Homo sapiens: one gene and its partners. The protein of the gene in region 1 purifies or fractionates together with the protein of each later gene. This does not show direct contact. Each region holds a gene or a part of one and is shown in the gene's direction. Other genes may lie near its edges. The genes, in order: KATNAL2, KIF26B and DIAPH3.

The links.
Region 2: the proteins of KATNAL2 (region 1) and KIF26B purify together in Homo sapiens (tandem affinity purification; one large-scale study listed by IntAct). This does not show direct contact.
Region 3: the proteins of KATNAL2 (region 1) and DIAPH3 purify together in Homo sapiens (tandem affinity purification; one large-scale study listed by IntAct). This does not show direct contact.

Annotation. Positions count from the first base shown.
Region 1 is NC_000018.10:47,057,029-47,060,683, forward strand, and holds part of KATNAL2 (katanin p60 ATPase-containing subunit A-like 2), read left to right. Parts: intron 1-1,206; coding exon 1,207-1,324; intron 1,325-2,527; coding exon 2,528-2,626; intron 2,627-3,655.
Region 2 is NC_000001.11:245,605,920-245,609,574, forward strand, and holds part of KIF26B (kinesin-like protein KIF26B), read left to right. Parts: intron 1-1,731; coding exon 1,732-1,825; intron 1,826-3,346; coding exon 3,347-3,609; intron 3,610-3,655. UniProt on the Homo sapiens protein: Essential for embryonic kidney development. Plays an important role in the compact adhesion between mesenchymal cells adjacent to the ureteric buds, possibly by interacting with MYH10.
Region 3 is NC_000013.11:59,664,947-59,668,024, reverse strand, and holds the end of DIAPH3 (protein diaphanous homolog 3), read left to right. Parts: intron 1-1,178; coding exon 1,179-1,441; 3' UTR 1,442-2,442; downstream 2,443-3,078. UniProt on the Homo sapiens protein: Actin nucleation and elongation factor required for the assembly of F-actin structures, such as actin cables and stress fibers. Required for cytokinesis, stress fiber formation and transcriptional activation of the serum response factor.

The DNA of each region.
Region 1 (3,655 bases):
CTCATGACGCTCTCCCCAGTGAGACCAACACTCACAGATGTGTCACCATGTGGACATTGGTGGTGTTATCGACATGTGTGGTCTTGCTGGCCAAATAGTTGTGCATTTATATTAGACATGAACATTTATTATCCCCATAAAGAAAGGAAGTTGAAATAGCAGCTCTCTGAGATCACTCTGAACATGGGGAGACTTGCTTCTAACGAACCTTCTGCAAATGCATCTCACATATGGGGACAAAAGTGCTAAGAGAACTAAGCAACAATGTGGGAGTTCATGTTCTGCCCCCACAAGCTAGTCCTGTCTCTCTCTGGATGGCATCTTCTACAGAAAAATATGGATATTCCAATACTGAATTTTATATCTAATTATGAGGATGTAGTGAAAAAAGTGATTTGATCTTTCTATGGATATATAACATATATACAGTCATACCACATATATAACTATGTATACAGTAAATGTATATACTCTTGTAACCACAGTTACAGCCACCGGCAAGCTACCTTTGCCCCTTCTCAGTCAAATTCTCCCCATCTCCATCAGAGTTAGCTACTCTTCTGACTTCCAGCCCCATCAGTTTGTTTTGTCTGAAGTAAACAATTGTTGATGAAAATTTGTTTGGCAAATATGATTGGTCTGGGACAACATTGATGAAGGGAAGTTTGTTTTCCTTCTGCAATCCCCTTTTGATGTTTATTACTCATAACATGCTGAGAGGTATTTTAAGTAGGCAGGGTATATCCAGGACACTGGATTAAAACCATGGGGCCAATCCCTGGATTTCCTACTGTTTCTTAGTTTGAATGGGAGGACTCCTTTCTCTCTCACACCTTTCTCCTGGTCTAATGCTCCTTTTAAGGAAGGTGGAAGGAACAATGGAAGAATGCTTGTAAAGTAATGTATTCTTAAGAACTAAAGCTATTTGCAGAAGGGCCGAAGCTATGTGGTGTGAAAGGGAAATGAAGAGGGTGAGTTGGGGGGCTCGAGGAGGCAATCTTAGAAGAACCCAGTGAGTAGCCTGGAGGGTGTTAGGGCCAGGATGGACCTGGTGGGTGGATCACATAGGTGGAAGGGCCCTATAGTTGCCACCTGCATATCTTTCAATAGCTTTCTTAAATGTGCTATTCTTAAGAATAGTTGTTTAACTACCTCAAATTAAGTGGCTAGAATAATTTCTTCCAAGGTCTTTGTTCCCTCCCTTAGGATGATGAACGACAGTTGTCAAAATCTTCCCAAGATCAATCAGCAGAGGCCCCGGTCCAAAACCACAGCGGGGAAGACAGGGGACACCAAATCGCTCAATAAGGAGCATCCTAATCAGGTCAGGATGGCTTGGCTTGACTTTGTGAACAGCACACTTGGCTGAAAAATAGCCCTATGAAAAAGGTCACATTTATTTATTTTTTGAGGACCTACGCTTTTAAAATTGCTGTGTGATCTAATTGAATTTTAGGTTTTCTTCCAGTACACTGGACTAAAACCATGGACATATCCCTAGATTTCCTAATGTTTCTTAACTTGAGTGGGAGGACTTTTTTCTCCTCCAAGTTTTTCCCCTGGTCTGGGTGCTGGGTGATTGGCCAGGGTGGGGCCAGGGCCCAGTCAGAGCGGGAAGGCCTGGTTGCCTTGATCCTCCCATCTGAGGTAACTATTACCTGAGGTAACTGAGCTAACCAAGATGGCAGGTCTTCCCATCCCAGAGCACATTGCTAGGTTCCTAAGTGTAGGCCAGGCATAGCCTACACTACATTTCAGGTATGGCTGGGTCTCAAGGTCTCCTGTTGGGCTCCTCCAAATCGCACATGGTCAGCCCTCACCCCAGACCTTCATGCTGGACTTCCTGGGGGCCAAGAAGGGCAGCAAGGAGAGAATCCAGCAGGTGAGAGAAGTCAATGGCTCCTGACTCAGGAGGCTCATGTCCAGAACCTTCTTAGTTAGGACTAAACATCCCAGGTTTCAAAGGAAAGAGGACCAATGGAAACTGAGAAAAGGAATTAAAAAAATTAATGTCAAATAACGGAAAGGTATAATCACAATATCCGATTGGTCAAAAGGATTCTCTCCCCCTCAAGGAGGTCCTACGGTTCTGGCCGCTGCAGCCTGACTCATGTGGAAGAGAGGTGAAGGTGGGGCAGGATGAGTCCCATGGGAGGCTAGTTGACTCTGCCATATCTCCAAACTCAGCCACTCCTGGCCAAAAACACCCCTGATCACAGGAGAAAAGACGAGCCAGCGAATGGGGATGGGTTGAGGCACAACTGTTTGAAGCACATTGGAAAAGCTGCTTGGGGCCCATGGGGCCTGGCATCTTCTCAGTCTTCCAGGGACAACTCTTTCCACATAGTGCAGGCAGACAGCTACTTCATCTTCCTGGGTCTGCACAAATGTGGCTAAGCTACATGTGCATGTCGCGTTCACAGAATTGCTATCCAGCATCGGACTTTGCTTGATGGAGTAGGCAGGTACATCCAGCAACTCTCCATGGCTGCTCACAGCCGATGTGTCCTTGTCTCTCTTTCTTCAGGAGGTAGTTGATAACACTCGCCTGGAAAGTGCCAACTTCGGCCTACATATATCAAGAATCCGTAAAGACAGTGGAGAGGAAAATGCCCACCCACGAAGAGTAAGTGAAACTCATGAACCTAACACTGAAAGTGGTAATTTCTTTTTCCTTTTAAACATGAAAACAAAAAACATTATTTTTGTCAAACAGGAAAGTTAAGATGTGATTTTTGAAGGTTGGCTGTGAGGTAAATGGAGAAGAGCGTCAGAAAATGGGTTCTTCTTTGGAATCTCCTTTCTGAATGAATGGGCTGGCATGAACTGCCCCATCTCTAAGGAACTCAGTTTCCACATTTGTAAATTGAGGGGCTTGGAAGAGATTGTCTCTAGTGTTCCCATCAGCTTAAAAATTCTGTAATAACAATGACAAACATTGGCATGATCATCCTGCATCGTTCTCATCATTTTTTTTTTTTTTTAAGAGACAGGGTCTTGCTCTGTCACCCAGGCTGGAGTATAATGGTGCAATCATGGCTCACTGCAGCCTCAAACTCCTGGGCTCAAAGAATCCTCTTGCCTCAGCTTCCCAAGTAGCTAGGACTACAGGCATGCACCACAACATCCAGCTAATTTTTTTCATTTTTCTAGAGATGGGGTCTCACTATGTTGCCCAGGCTGGTTTCAAACTTCTAGCCTCAAGCAATCCTCCTGTCTGGGCTTCCCAAAGCGCTAGGACATCTGCGTTATTTAGTGAGTTGGAAACGCATACTCATTCTGCTCTGTCCTGTCAGTGGCATTTGATTAGTGGTGTCACCTTTCTCCTTGGAGGGATGGCTCCTGGTCTAAATGTAATTTCATGTGGACCATGAAACATCAGTTGATACAGGGTTGATTTTGTCCTTGATAGATATTTTTACCTTTTTCATAATGAATCTCATGTCTAGATTTCTAAATAATAATGTCTTAAGCAGAAAAGACCCAGATTGGGTGGATGTAGTCAAAAGGTAGATTAAAACATGTAATTTGGAAATGAATTGCACCATATTGCTCTTGGTCATACTCTCCAAGGTTGTAGTTCTTTAAGCTTCTTCTTTCTTCAGCCAAGTGCTCAAACCTCTGGAGTGCTGACTTAGTTCTGGCCAGCTCTTAG
Region 2 (3,655 bases), on another chromosome or scaffold:
AGAATCAAATACAGCTTATTTTATGTATAGCTCAAGGTGATTTCTCAGCCTCCTGCCTCCCATCCCACTTTATGTCCAAAGAAGGCTTAGTCCATTGGGCAGCCTTCTGCCTGCTCTGCAGACACGCCTCTGGCAAATTCCATCAAGACGCTACTGCTTCTGTCTCAGGGTTAGCACTGGGCTCTCCTTGCCTAAGTCCTGGGGGGTTTGAAAGATCCTGTGTGCCCTACAGCAGCCCTGTCCTGCCACCCCCTCTGGCCCAGGAGGAGCCCCCCGCCCCCCGCAGAGTTGCTGGGGACCACCCTGGAACAAGTGACAGCTGTTGGAAGTGTGGTTTTTCAATTTTAGTTTAGGAGAGAAAACTGATTTCCAAATACTTGGGTTCACTGTGCTGCTGAATAACAACATTCACGGCCCAGGTGCCCACCGGGAGGCACGCTGCCCCGAGGGCTGCAAAGCCCCATGTTAGCACTGCCTCCCGGAGCTCCCACGAGCCCTGACTCCGGCCCCGAGACAGAAATGAAAGCAACAGGGCACAGCGAATAATGCTATCTTTCTGCTTCTGTGACAAGTCTCAGGTGCTAAACAAAGAGAAGGACATTTCCCAGATCTCCAAGTTAGTCCACAAAACCGACAGCTCTGATGGCTCGCAGAGCTCTGTATTAGCGGGTGTTCAGGGGAAATACAAAACATCATCGAGAGCCTGGTCCCTGTCTAGGATTTAATAATCAAATTGGAGACCAGACACACACACCCGGCCAAAGAACACCTAATAACATACCATGTGGTGACTGATACTCTATATGTTGAATGTATCTGTAGCAAAAGGAAGAAAAGGCAGGTTTTGAAAAGAGGAGCATGGGACGGGCGCAGTGGCTCACGCCTGTAATCCCAGCACTTTGGGAGGCCGAGGCGGGTGGATCACCTGAGGTCAGGAGTTTGAGACCAGCCTGACCAACGTGGTGAAACCCCCTCTCTACTAAAAAAATGCAAAAAATTAGCCAGGCATGGTGGCACATGCCTGTAATCCCAGCTACTCGGGAGGCTGAGGCAAGAGAATCACTTGAGCCCAGGAGGCGGAGGTTGCAGTGAGTTGAGATCGCACCATTGCACTCCAGCCTGGGCAACGAGACTGAAACTCCGTCTCAAAAAAAAAAAAAAAAAAAAAAATGAGGAAGGTGTGAATTGAAAATGAGGAAAGAGATCAGGAGAGAAAGCAGATATATATCACAAACCTCTTGCTTACGTGAGAACTACGGTGTTTCTCAAGGTCTCACTTGTGAAATGGTGGGTCACCTTTTTCCCTCTCATAAGCCTGGCCTGTTTAATAAACTCTATGTATACGTGTGTCAGCAGAGGGTGAGTGGAGAGTTTAAAGACCTTATCCGGGACCCCAGAATGGCAGATGAGGGAAGGGAATGAGGTTCATGAGCACACTGTGCCCCCATTCCAGCCTGCTCCTGCCTGCTCTACAGACGCATTCGCTGAAACGTACCACGGATTAGCAGAAGGGTGGTTTGCAGTGCATGTGCATAATGCTCAGGCTTGCAAAGGGCGGAAGGTCGCCAGGGGTTCTGAGCATCTCCAAAACTTCACGACAGAGGCCAACCCACCTGGGAACACAGTGACACTGGGACCCGAAGCCCCAGGAAGGTGGGCTCACTTTCGTTGTTAGTGGTGTCTCCGCTGCGAGGTCCATTCACGGCTCGTGTCTCCTCTTGTGTCTGACAGGCTGAAGTGTGTGCAGGCACCGTGGCAGAGGTGATCCAGTCTGTGGTCAACGGGGCAGATGGCTGCGTGTTCTGTTTCGGCCACGCCAAACTGGGTTCGTGAGAGTTTCACTTTCTCATGCGGCTCGTTGAGCTCCCTGTCATCCCATGCATTCCTCTGTCTCCCTCCCAGAGTTCTCTGATGACAGGAAGGGCTGCGTTTCTCTTAGGTGTTGAGCTGAATAACCAATAACAAGTTATACGACGAAAACCTATGTTGTTCATTGTAGGTGGACACCCATTCATGTAGGAAAGCCTTCAAGTCCAAATAGATGGAAAGAGAAGTAGCAGAGTTGTTCCCACTTGGTCCAGGTCAGAGTCAAGCCCAGAAGGCAGGCAGGAAAATATTCATTTCCTGAGCAGCCGCTGTTTGGGAAGCAGATAGGGCCCCTTGCACCACCGCACCCATGAGGATGTGGGTTGGTGGTTGGACCCCTGTAAAAGCCAGAGGAGCAACCTCCAAGCAAAGCCCAGAGCCCAGGGCGCGTCTGGAGAAAGCAGTGCACACCGTCGGGAACACTCCAGCGCTGAAGCGTCTGGGAAAGGAGGCAGCAGAGCCCCCCAACAAGGGGTTCATAAATCCCCCCACAGTCCCATCTTACTTCTGACCTGTGGCCATCTGCTCCCCAGGCCTTGCCCTTACACGCTTGATATGTTTAGTGAATTGAGGAGCTTCAAAAACTGTCCCTTGGCAGAGATTCCAACAGAGGCCTTGCTGGAGCTCACAGAGGCCAGTTCTCAGCCAGGACAGAAAGCCATTGCCTCTCTCTGCACTTCCGTCCTCCCCAGCCCTTTCTCTTGATCTTGATGTAAGCAGTGATCTGGGTTTTAATAGAATTTGCTCATGCCATAAAAATATACACAGCATTTAACTTGAGACAGGATATAAAGTGTGAATATGTGGACTTAATCTGGGGGGTAACTATAAAAAGAACCATAATGATGATGAAAAAGCCCAGCCTTCCCACTGTGTGTAAAGCAGTGCAGGAACTGGATAGCATGTGATATTTGGGGTCCTCCTCAAGGTACATGGTGATTTAATCTTGTCACATGTCTGGGCTCTTGCTTTGTTTCTTTTTTTTTTAAGAGATGGCTCTCAGTTGCCTGGGCTGGAGTACAGTGGCATGCTCATAGATTACTGTAACCTCCAATTCCTGGGCTCAAGTGATCCTCTCGCCTCAGCTTCCCAAGTAGCTGGGGCCACAGGCATGCCCCACCACACCCAGATAATTTTTAAAAATTTTTCATAGAGGCAGGGTCTCCGTATGTTGCCCAGACTGGCCTGGAACTCCTGGCCTCAAGCAATCCTCCCATCTTGGCCCCCACAAAGTGCTGAGGTTACAGGCATGAGCCACTGAGCCCAACCAGCATTCTTTATTGTAGCCATTTAGTTAGTAATACCAGAAAATGCCTTCTGTTGTTGTCAAATACTATTTCTCTCATCTTTTTGTTCCTTCTCTTCCCTTTTCCCCCCTTCCCTGTGCCTTTCTTCTATATCCTTGGCATCTATTTTGGAGACTCCGTGGAATGATGCCTGGACACTGAACCTGCTTTTCTTCCTTCCCTGGTTCTCCCAGGAAAATCCTACACCATGATCGGAAAGGATGATTCCATGCAGAACCTGGGCATCATTCCCTGTGCCATCTCTTGGCTCTTCAAGCTCATAAACGAACGCAAGGAAAAGACCGGCGCCCGTTTCTCAGTCCGGGTTTCCGCCGTGGAAGTGTGGGGGAAGGAGGAGAACCTGCGGGACCTGCTGTCGGAGGTGGCCACGGGCAGCCTGCAGGACGGCCAGTCCCCGGGCGTGTACCTCTGTGAGGACCCCATCTGCGGCACGCAGGTGATTGCTTCTGAAGCCTGGCTCGCCCCAAGGTGGCTCCCTCCCC
Region 3 (3,078 bases), on another chromosome or scaffold:
GAGATTGTCCAAGAAAGTGTGTAAAATCCTCATCCATCACTGGAAGCCTCTGGTCAGAAAATGACAGTGCAGTAAATATCTTCAGCAGCCACCTTTTAATGTACAAGCTGTTTTCAGTTGGAATTTTCAGCACTCACATAAAACACACTGTCATGAGTGACTGCTTGTGCTCCAAAGTCATTACTATTGGGACAATGGAACATCTCTCAGAGAATAACCAAAAAACTTTAAATGTCATGTCAGGTTTGTTGAAGCCATTTTCAAGCCCCATTCAAGGTTACATGAATATTGAGGGTGTCTGTTTTTTAAAAGTCATCATTACCATCACTTACCAATAAAAGAATGTATGTGTGTATGTATATATGTACATGCATGTATGTATAGATGTGTATATACTTGACAATTACATATAACATTCTGGTTTGCTAGGAAGTTTTAATTATTTGCTTGCCAAGTTCATTGTTTCTTTAAAGGAAAATAATCGACTTTTTAAATTCTTATTAGAAACTTTCCTTCTTGATTTCATTCAAAAAGGAAATTAATCTCATTATTATTCAAGCTAATGTTTAATCTTGTGTCACAGAGTGTGGAAATTATTTATTTATCCAACAAATATTTATTGAGGACCTACTTTGCACCAGGGCCATTTTAGGCCCTGAAGTTACAGCAGTATTTAAAATAATGTCCCTACTGTCTTGGAGCACACATTCTAGTAAGACAGACAATGGACAAGTGAGCAAATATATTGTGTGTCCAGCCATCATGTGCCCTGTGAAGGAAAACATGACGGGGAAGGATAGAGCAGTGCAAAGGGCAAATGCTATTTTAGATGGGTGGCTAGGGAAGGCCTCTCTTTTTAGGTGGTGTTTGAACAGAGACCTGAAAGAAATATGGGACCAGGCCCTGATAATAACCACGTGACAGGCATGTCAGGCATAAAGGAAGAAGGAAATGGGCATTAGTGCTAATGAAACGGTTGGCTGTTATATTTTAGTTTATTCTTAAACCCCTGTGTGATTATTTTAAACCTGTCTTACTCTGTTGACTGTTTCTTTGTTTAGTCTATCTAAGAAGACTACTTATTTATTGAGAATAATTATTTTAAATGTGTTTCATAACGTGCACAGTCCTTGGTTATCATGGTGATAAGTTTTATGTTTCTTTTTTCCTTACTGTAGAAAATCAGAAAGTGCAGTTGACAGAAGGGTCACGTTCACACTACAATATCAATTGCAACTCAACAAGGACTCCAGTCGCCAAGGAGCTTAATTATAATCTAGACACTCATACGTCTACTGGGAGGATCAAGGCAGCTGAGAAGAAGGAAGCGTGTAATGTAGAAAGCAACAGAAAAAAGGAAACGGAACTTCTTGGCTCTTTTTCTAAAAATGAATCAGTTCCCGAAGTTGAAGCCCTGCTGGCAAGATTACGAGCTTTATAAGTTAAACTGGTTTTTAAAAAAAATGATTAAGCCAAATATAAAGCCATGCTCTAAACTATAACACTTGAAAAAATTGCTTTTATGTAAGTGACTTTATATAGTTTTAAATTATGATATATATTAGAAAAATAAAGCTAAATATATGATTGCAATGCTTTTTCTATGTACTGGAGGTTTTGGTTTATTCAAGATTGTACCGGGCTTTAATCCTTTTTTTTTTTTTTTTGTCTCCTGGTATTCCTCAGTTCTTTATTTGGTGGTTAAATTATACATATTGCTTTAGAGAGCAGGTAGGTGGCCATGTGTTCAGCAGTGTGTCCTTAAGAAAATACCATCTTTCTAAGCCACTGGAATTTTTACTTTACTATTTTTAACATTAATGGATGTCAGGTCATCAACCTCAAGTCTTTACATATCCATGTATATTCCATATATATTGTTTATATAGGCCCAAGTTTCTCCTTAATTGGGATCTATATACTACCAGCACAACATCAAAAACATGTAATTGAATACATCAGAGCTATATATGTAAGGAAATGACTGGTGACCCCATTATCATCATTGTTGAATTCATGTTAAGTAGACCCTCTAGGGGACCATAAGGCAATTGAGCACATAACGAAAAATGATGCAATAAGAATGTATGCACTCTCTTTGCCAAATGCATGTGCTTTTGTGTAACGTGGATGTAAACAGAATTGCAGTGCTGCCGAAATTCTTGATCTTGGCTAAGAGAGTATTTTTCCCCTTGTAATTATGACTCTGAGATAAAATTGCCATTTTGAAATTTCCAAAGTAACAACTTTTTTTATTTTATGAATAAACTTGGGATTGCAATTTCTCTGATCTGACAATCAATAACTTTAACAAAGATCTAAATAAGTGTTTCAAGGAAAGTTTTCCTAAGCAAATGTAATATTACCTCATTTGGGCATCATTACTCTGTTAATTCTATATCAAAGGAAATAAACTTGCTACTTGCACTAAATGAAAAAAAATGCTTTCTTTTGTCTCTCTTTTTTTGAAAACATTCTGTGGATAAGCTGAGAATAGACTGTGCTATGCAGTCTGTCTAAGCATCTATTTTGCTTTATTACATGTAATAAGTAAGTGACTGTTCTTTTACCTTCAGTTAAAAAGCAGTTATATGGAACTAGTCGGGCAAGGTCTATTGCTTTTTATTTCCTTAAGTTGCCACCTCCTTTCAGCTCTAAGTTAATAAAGTTAATTAATTAGAACTATGAGCCAGGCCCTGTTTATAGACATTGGAGAACAGAGTATTCTCTGTAGCCAGTGTAGGAATAAATGTGAATTTGTATGTATTGCTGAAATGTGCATTTTGCCATCCAGTTGCAATTCCTGTTTTTCTGAAAACAAACCTTAAAAATCAAGAAAGGTGAAGGACATTTACATATTTAAGCTGACGGCACCCCTAACAACAAGGCAGGATTGTTTTGTTTAGGAAAGAATTTAAATGAAAGAACTCTCACTATCAGTTCTTAATGTGATTTTGCAGACTTGGGTTTTTCAGAAACAAAACTTAAATTCAACTAGATAGTTTGGGCACACCAGGAAGCAGGTAAAAACTCTGGAAACTTGGGACCGGGGAGCAGCCACGGGGGAGAAGAAGCCCG